Regions from separate parts of the Homo sapiens genome. Here region 1 is reported to be linked to region 2. The links are microRNA targets in miRTarBase. Many come from high-throughput screens and were not tested one by one. Region 2 holds a microRNA gene; the other region holds the end of a gene's coding sequence.
What was found. Region 2 holds the annotated microRNA hsa-miR-5010-5p (AGGGGGAUGGCAGAGCAAAAUU, at 1,594-1,615, shown strand). A microRNA usually pairs through its seed, bases 2 to 8, with sites in the 3' UTR of a target mRNA and lowers its output. Matches are read on the target gene's strand: a 7mer-m8 pairs with bases 2 to 8, a 7mer-A1 pairs with bases 2 to 7 and ends in A, and an 8mer does both.

Region 1 (4,476 bases), not on the chromosome of region 2:
AGGGTGGGAAGGAGTGAGGACCAGTCCCCAGTCTGTGGTCGTGCCTCTCCCAAGCCTTCCCTTCCCTCCCGGCCCAGGAGCAGATGGAGCAGCTGCTGCTCGGGGAGCAAAGCCTGGAGGCCTTCCTGCCTGCCTTCCAGCGTGGCCGCGCCCTGGCCCACCTGAGGCGGACGCAGGCAGAGAAGCTGCAGGAGCTGCTGCGGCGTCGGGAGCGTTCTGCCCAGCCGGCCCCCACCTCGGCTGCTGATCCCCCCAAATCCTTCCCGGCTGCAGCTGTCCTGCCCACTGGGGCCGCCCGGGGGCCACCAGCAGTGCCCCGGAGCCTGCCCCCCTTGGACTCCCGCCCAGTGCCCCCACTGAAGGGCTCCCCCGGGTGCCCCCTCGGCCCGGCCCCCCTGCTGAGCCCTCGGCCCTCGCAGCCAGAGCCCCCCCACCGGTAGGATCCACGGTGCGGCCCCCCAGTTGGGGGGCCTAGACAAACTTGATGCGTGGCTCCTCCTCCTCCCCCACTGCCTGGGTGGGGGGAGGGGCAGGCCCCTCCCCCTGGCCTCAGGCAGGCCCTGGCCCTGGAGGCTGAGCTGGGGAGGAGGGTCCCCTGGAAGAGGCCCGAGAGGGGGCTGGGGGTGGGTGGGCAGGGCTTTATGCCTCTGGCGCTGAAGACACCCTGCCTTTTTTGTTTCCGTGCCCCGGGGCCTCTAGGGTGATGGACCAGCCCCGTTAAAGAACTTGACTCAACTACAGGGGCCTGGGAAGATGCCTGGGTCCCCTAGGGGCCTTGCCAAGGGGACCTGTCGCACCCCACCACTCCACTGGGCTCGCACAACGCCAAGGCCGCCAGGAGTGTTTTACATCATGTCCTGAGCCTACCTTTCCCCCAAATTCTGGGGCCCACAGCCTAGGAGCCAGGTGATCAGGCCTCGGCTGTGGGGCCAGGGACACCATGGCCCTGGGGCTACTACGTGTCCACACATGCTCCAGACCCTGGGGCAAGGTAGGCCAGGGGCTTCTGACCTGTGCAGGTGAGAGTGGGCCATACCCAGGAAAGACCATTCTGTATTTTTCTGTCCCTGTCTCCTTAGAATGGAAGCTTTTTGAGGGCAGGTCCTTGTCTTTGTACGTTCTGTCCCCAGCCCCGCCTCTTAGGGGCCGTCAATAAATGTGATGATGAGGATGACGATGCTGCCCGACTCCTCTCTGCTGTTGCAGCCTCCACAGCTCAGCTCCTGTGCTTCCACTTCCTACTTTTGAGATGCTCTCCCCTCCTTTCTGCCCATGCAAAGCCCAGCTGTCCGGGTCCAACACCGCCGCTGCCTCTTCCATGAAGCCTTCTCTGATTACCAACCCGTTGAGAGCCTTTCCTAAATCTTAACTTCCCGGCATTTCCAGTCAGAAGCGCTCACTGCTCCATCTTGGTTCTCCAATTGCCTCACCTGTACGCATCTTTTCCTGGGTTGCCCATAAGCCCAATCGGGATGGTACCTGGTCTTCTCTGGCCTGCCAAATGACGGTCCCCACGGAGTGATGGAGGGCATTTTGCAGGACTGATGGCATCTGTCCTCAGCCAGGGGGAATGCTAGGTGCCAGTTTGGCTGATGATTGTGGAACAAGGAGGTGGGATATACCCTGGGTCAGCTTAGGTCAAGTCCAATGAGATGCAGTTTGGCAGGGAGGCGTGGAAGTTCTTGCAAACAAAAGGGGACAGTCACAGTGTTGTGGAAGCCTACAAAGCTAATATGGTGTTGGTCCATGTTAATAAGGACATAACTATCTGGAAAGAGGAAGGTGTTGGGGTAGCTTTGCTTTTCACTTAAGTTTTTTACTGGAAGAGGGTCCCCTCCCCCCACCCGCCCCAAATGGCACCTTTGGAGAAACAAGGATGAGAAAGAACAGTCAGTGAGGAACAGTTGAGGGATCTGTTTCAAATGTGTTTGTGTGTGATGTTCAGCCTTTGAATCTCTAAAGGGTTGGGTCACCTAGAACCAGAGGTTAAAGCCAAGACCAGTGGGTGGGAACCACAGGTCAAAGCTAAGACCAATTGGTGGAAACCGTAAGGGGCCGGATTTTGGCTCCGTTTGAGGCTCTTAAATTAGGGATGAGGCCAGGAGCGGTGGCTCATGCCTGTAATCCCAGCACTTTGGGAGGCCAAGGTGGGTGGATCACCTGAGGTCAGCAGTTCAAGACCAGCCTGGCCAACATGGCGAAAACTCATCTCTACTAAAAATACAAAAATTAGCCACGCATGGTGGTAGGGACTTGTAATCCCAGCTACTCAGGAGGCTGAGGCAGGAGAATTGCTTGAACCCGGGAGGCAGAGGTTGCAGTGGGCCAAGATCACGCCACTGCACTCCAGCCTGGGCGACAAAAGTGAAACTCCGTCCCCCCACCCAAAAAAAAAGTTAGGGGTGTTCTGTGAGGTGGATGGTCCCCATCCCTGACGATGTGGGGGCAGCAACTGCTTGATGGGCTTTTTAGAGATGTCGGCTGTAGCTAGAGGGATTGGGCTGTGGGAGCTTTAGAGCCTCAGGCCTAGACAGTCAGAGTGTCCCCCTAGTACAGGCACAGTTTAAGCACTGAGAGTGCCCACTTTAGAACCTCCATCCCACCTTGGTCTTGGTTCTACTCTCTTCACTGCTGGCACTTCAGCTGCTGGAGGCCAAGGGACACCAGAACCGCTGAGTTCCTGCTGATATGACCAAAGACTGAGCAGCCTTGGAAGACCTCTCCCCCATGCTCTCCTTCTCAGCACAGTCTGGGGCAGGATGGGCCCCTCCTGCCCTGGCTTCCCATTCCTGGTCCAAGCTTCCAGGGTGCAAAGCAGTCCATTCCCACGAAAAAGTACCTTTGTCCCATTTTTCTGAAAATGCATGGTTCCCTGCTGTTTTTTGTTTTTTTTTGCTTTTTGTTTTTTTTTGAGATGGAGTTTCGCTTTTCTCACCCAGGCTGGAGTGCAATGGAGCGATCTCGGCTCACTGGAACCTCTGCCTCCCACGTTTAAGCCATTCTCCTGCCTCACACTCCCGAGTAGCTGGTATTACAGGCATGTGTCACCAAGCCCGGCTAATTTTGTATTTTTAGTAGAGACGGGGTTTCTCCATGTTGGTCAGGCTGGTCTCAAACTCCTGACCTCAGGTGATCTGCCCGCCTTGGCCTCCCAAAGTGCTGGGATTACAGGCGTGAGCCACCGCACCTGGCTTTTTTTTTTTTTTTTTTTTTTTTGAGACGGAGTCTCGCTGTGTCGCCCAGGCTGGAGTGCAGTGGCGTGATCTCGGCTCACTGCAGGCTCCACCTCCTGGGTCCATGCCATTCTCCTGCCTCAGCCTCCTGAGTAGCTGGGACTACAGGCGCCTGCCACCATGCCTGGCTAATTATAATTATTTTTGTATTTTTAGTAGAGACGGGGTTTCACCATGTTAGCCAGGATGGTCTCCATCTCCTGACCTCGTGATCCGCCCGCCTCAGCCTCCCAAAGTGCTGGGATCACAGGTGTAAGCCACAGTGCCCGGTCCCCACTTTTTTTTTTTTTTTTTTGGCTCTCCTTCATGATTGACATGGTGTAGAGTTTGCAACCAAAAGGTAAAAAGGGGCAAAGGTTGGGCAGGTCTGGACCTTTCTCCACTATCATGAATTGGGGAGCAGCCTTTAGAAGGCAGCAGCTACCAGGTTGAGCCTCCCCTCCTCAGGGTAGGTAAGAAGCAGAGAAAGTTGAGACATGGACAAGAGAGGGACTAGGAAGAAGTGTTACCATGGGAACCAGATGGGGTCCTTCAGAAGGCCTCCCACACACCTTGTCTTGCACAGAGCTGATTCTTCTTTAGAGGGGCAGGGAGTGAGACCCCTCTGTGTTCAGCTCCAGCCTGAAAATGATCGGAGGCAGGTGAGGATGGACACCACCAGAGTGGAGTGGGCCCAGTTCTGGGTGGGCCATGGAAAGGCTTACAGTTGGATGGTTTGAAAAATCATTAACCCCTTTTGCTTGAAGGTACATGGAATGTTCAGGAAGGTTCTGGAATGTTCTGGAAGGTGCAGCACTCTGGGCCCTTCCTTTTGCCTAAAACCTTCTTGAACTTGCTGCTTCTAGATTCAGGGGGCCCCAGGAATGTTCCTGGCTGTGATCTGTGAGAGAAAACAAACTTGAGGGTCTGCATCAGGGGGCTCATGAAAAAGGTCCTACCTATTAGATACCATTTTGCTTTTACAAAACAAAACCAAAGAAGTCTCCAAATAAAACTCCCACCCCTTTTAATAAAAACAGAGCTCCCTGTTCCTCAAGAAAGTCTATTATGTACACCTCCTTGTTTGTGAATCACTAGCTTCTGCATTTTTCTAACCTTCCCCATCTTGGTTTCCAAATATGAAACATAGTAACATTAAATTGCTTTTTCTTTTTCCTAACCAATCAAGGCTCACTGAGCTAAGCAGGCTCCAACCAGTGTGGGCTCAAACCTTCACCACTGAATCGTGTAGTCCCTGCAAAGC
Region 2 (4,000 bases):
AGACGTTCGCCCAGAGATGGCATGGTGGAGCCAGCCCCCTCCACGCTGGCTGCACCCCTGTGGCCTGGGCTGTTGTGGCTTTACCAGCCAAGCCACTTTCTCCCATCCCCATGTTCTCAGTGATTTCCCAAGGCATTTCTGGTGTCCTTTGGGAGTGGAATCACGTGGGTTTTGAAAGGAACTGCGGTGAAAAATAGACCCTGACCTGAGGGCAGGGGCCGATGGGGAGGCCACTGAGCCCTCAGGAGTGTCTGAAAGCTCAGAAGATTCTGGTCTGGGCTCTGCGGGGGGAAGCCCCATAAGGGAGCGCCTCCTGGTCTTTGGTCAGCTTGACAGAGAGGCCCAGGGAAAGTACCTGGGGCTTCCAGAATATACCAAATTCAGAAGCCCACATTCACCCCTGACTGTGCTTGGAGCAAACCTGAAAGTTCACTCCCAAGAGCTTGTTCCAGCCCATTCCTTTATTCTGGAAATAATTCTTGGTATTGAAAGGAAAACTGGGACAAAGGGAGCTTGAGGAAAACGAAAACAAACAAGAAACTGGAGATATGCTATTTAGTCTTAACCCAAACAGATATGCTGTTTGGCCTTAACCCATGTGGAAATTTGTAAACTTTGTCAGGATTTCCCTGTGCATGGTGGTGAAATCATGTAGGGAAAAAAAAATTCACCGTGTAATCTCTTTAGAAGTCACAAAAGAAAAAGAAGGTTATCTTGCTCCCAAAAGGCTGTAAAAAGAATAAGTAAAGTGGCCATAGAGGCCTAGTCTTCTCAGGACAGTGTCCGGGTTGAGAGTCTGTCTCCTGAAGCGCACTCTGGGGAAAATCCCTTCCTGCCCTCCTGCAGGTCCTTAGGGTCCCAGACCCAGACAGTCACTTTCTCAACAGAGTGCCGTCAACTCAGCACACACTCCTCTCTTGAGCACAGAGCCCCAGAGGGAGAAGAACAAATGTGTTGAAAAGAATCTTATTAAGATGTAGTTAATTAAAATGTAATGTATTGAGGGGAATGGAGGTGTCCCAGGTGAGGGCTAAGTCAGGCAGGATTTTTGGGGAAGGCATTGCCGAAATCACCACCTGAGCTCAACACTGGGTGCTTCTGGCCCCTCCAGAGTTGAGGTGCCATCCATGGGAAGTGCAGTCCCCTGCCCTGGCCCAGGTTCAAAGCGCCAAGTAGCCACAACTCAGAATGCCTGCACGTTCCCCTCCTAGCCTTATATCTTCTCTCTGGTTTCCTCCCACGACAGTTTGACTTTGGGGACACCATGGTCCACCAGGCCATCCACACCATCGAGTACTGCCTGGGCTGCATCTCCAACACTGCCTCCTACTTGCGGCTCTGGGCCCTCAGCCTCGCTCATGCGCGTGAGTACCTCTCTCCGGGCTCCGGAACTCTAGTTTCCCCCTCTGTGGGCGCACTGTCAGTTGGGGGGCTTAAGTCAAATGGAAATTACATGAAGGTTCTGGAATTATTCAGGTTCCTGAACCCAAGGAGAATGAGTACAGACAGGAGGCTCAGCACTTGTGCCAGGTTAGCTCTGCATGGTGGTCCCACTAAGGCAGTGGGAAGCCAGGATCCAGGGAACCCTAGAGCAGGGGGATGGCAGAGCAAAATTCATGGCCTACAGCTGCCTCTTGCCAAACTGCACTGGATTTTGTGTCTCCCATTCCCCAGAGCTGTCTGAGGTGCTTTGGACCATGGTGATCCACATCGGCCTGAGCGTGAAGAGCTTGGCGGGAGGTTTGGTGCTGTTCTTCTTCTTCACTGCCTTTGCCACCCTGACCGTGGCCATCCTCCTGATCATGGAGGGCCTCTCGGCCTTTCTCCACGCACTGCGCTTACACTGGTGAGGGGCAGTGGGGCAGGGCGGGCATGGGGGTGGATGTGTCCTTAGCTGCGGTGAGAGGGCAGCTTTTCTCCCACACACAGCCCTGCAGCTCTGTGCAGGAAAGATGAGCTGGCCCTGCACTAGCTTCACCTCAGGACACCCCAGCACCGGCATTGCCACAGAGTTTCGGAAAATGGTCACAGAAAAGCACAGCTCAGCCTTCCCTAGGCTCTAGGGAGATGTCCCTGGTGAGTGGTGTCAGGTCCCGCTCCCTGCCTTTAGCTGTCCCCAGTGCTCCTGATTTTGGCTTAAAGGGGCTGCTGGGGTCTTAGGGTTTCTGGTTTTCTCTCTGATGTGTAACTCTTCTGTCTTCAGAACAGTGGAAGCAGCTCTGGAATGTATGTTAAGTGCAGGAAAGGCTAGAACACGCTGCACCCCAGCTTTATCCTCTTTGTTCTGTCATTGTGCCAGGGGTCTTTGAGTTGGACCCCTGGCAGCTCCATTGTGGACCGGAGGGATTCCTGGCTCTATAGGGTGGAGGTCGGTACACTCACGCAGCTTCTTCACATGGGCAGGTTTGGGGTGGTTCTGTTTGTTTTCTTTAATGAAGCTTGTGACTCTTAATGGCTGTGTGTGGAGAGAGCATGAGTTCAGCCTCTGGGACTGGGAGAGCGGGGGTGTGGTCTGGGCTGTGACCACCTCAAACCAGCGTTGCCAGATGTAGCACATAAAAGTACAGTTTGGCTGGGCACGGTGGCTCATGCCTGTAATCCTAGCACTTTGGGAGGCTAAGGCAGGTGAATCACCTGAGGTCAGGAATTCGAGACCAGCCTGGCCAACATGGTAAAACCCCGTCTCTACTAAATATACAAAAATTAGCCAGGTGTGGTGGCACGTGCCTGTAATCCCAGCTACTCAGGAGGCTGAGGCAGGAAAGAATCTCTTAAACCCAGGAGGCAGGGGTTGCAGTGAGCTGAGATTGTGCCACTGCACTCCAGCCTGGGCAACAGAGCGAGACTCTGTCTCAAAAAAAAAAAAAAAAAAATAGGGGAGGGGTTGGGGGCCAGGCACGGTGGTTCACTCCTGTAATCCCAGCACTTTGGGAGGCCGAGGCGGGTGGATCACCTGAGGTGGGGAGTTCGAGACCAGCCTGACCAACATGGAGAAACGCTGTCTCTACTAAAAATACAAAAACATTAGCCGGGCATGGTGGTGCATGCCTGGAATCTCAGCTACTTGGGAGGCTGAGGCAGGAGAATCGCTTGAACCCAGGAAGTGGAGGTTGCATTGAGCCAAGATCGCGCCATTGTACTCCAGCCTGGGCAACAAGAGTGAAACTCGGTCTCAAAAAATAAAAATACAGGGTGTATTTCACATAAACAACAAATAATTTTTTTAGTATGAGTATTTCCCAAATGTGCATGGGATATGCTTATACTAAAAACTGGGGCAGTCTGTATTTTCTGTGGCTGTTCCACCTCAGACTCCACTTCTTTGGGTCTCTATTTTCTCCTTTATGTTGTGATTCTCTTTTTGGGGGTCTCAAAACCCCAATGTCTCTGGAAGTTCTGGCCCCTCTCCCCAGAGGAGCACTCACACACTTCTCCTGTTTTACAAGCATAGGGGTCTGACTCACTGGTGTGCCTTAGAGGCCCCTGGATGGGATGCTCTGTGGTGTTCATGATCTCAAGGCCAGAAGAGGACTATGAATGTCTCTCTTCGTTCTCAAAACCTGAAGAAAATCCAGCATCTGAACCTGAGAAACTCATTCCCCACTCCCCTTTATCTTTGATTATTCTCATGGCTGGGTGACCCCTGAGCCTCCTCAAAGATTCAGCTGTGGGTTTTTCTGAATGATGGGCGGAGAGTGAGGCATGGAAGGGCAAGACGTGGCTAGGGTGCACTCTTCTTCAAAAGCCCTGCTGCGTCAGTAGACCTGGCTTCCTCTGGCCTGGCTCTCTCCCTCCTGGCCTCCCTCCTCCCCACCCAGCTCATCTGGCTGGCCTCCCTGTTCTAAGCTTATCAGCCGACCCCCGCAAGCACACTTCCTCAGCCCTCCTCAGTGCACGAGAACCTCTGAGGACTCACTTTTTCTTGCCCCTTGGCCTCCTTTCTTTTCTTTTCACTCCTGTCTCTTGAGCCCTGGGTTTGAGGGAACAGTGACCACCTCAC

Region 1: the mRNA of VPS37D is a reported target of hsa-miR-5010-5p. Seed matches in the 3' UTR shown: 7mer-A1 at 503-509 and 7mer-A1 at 871-877.

The regions. Positions count from the first base shown.
Region 1 is chr7:73,670,937-73,675,412 of GRCh38, forward strand. VPS37D (VPS37D subunit of ESCRT-I) reads left to right here. Exons shown (of 4, transcript NM_001077621.2): 4 at 78-1,174. The coding sequence ends at 440. Among named protein-coding and RNA genes, the nearest start is that of VPS37D, 5.3 kb to the left of the region's middle.
Region 2 is chr17:42,512,615-42,516,614 of GRCh38, forward strand. It overlaps MIR5010 (microRNA 5010), which reads left to right and starts at 1,574; the gene lies at 1,574-1,693. ATP6V0A1 (ATPase H+ transporting V0 subunit a1) reads left to right here. Exons shown (of 22, transcript NM_001130021.3): 20 at 1,247-1,364; 21 at 1,675-1,846. RefSeq lists an enhancer at 3,993-4,000.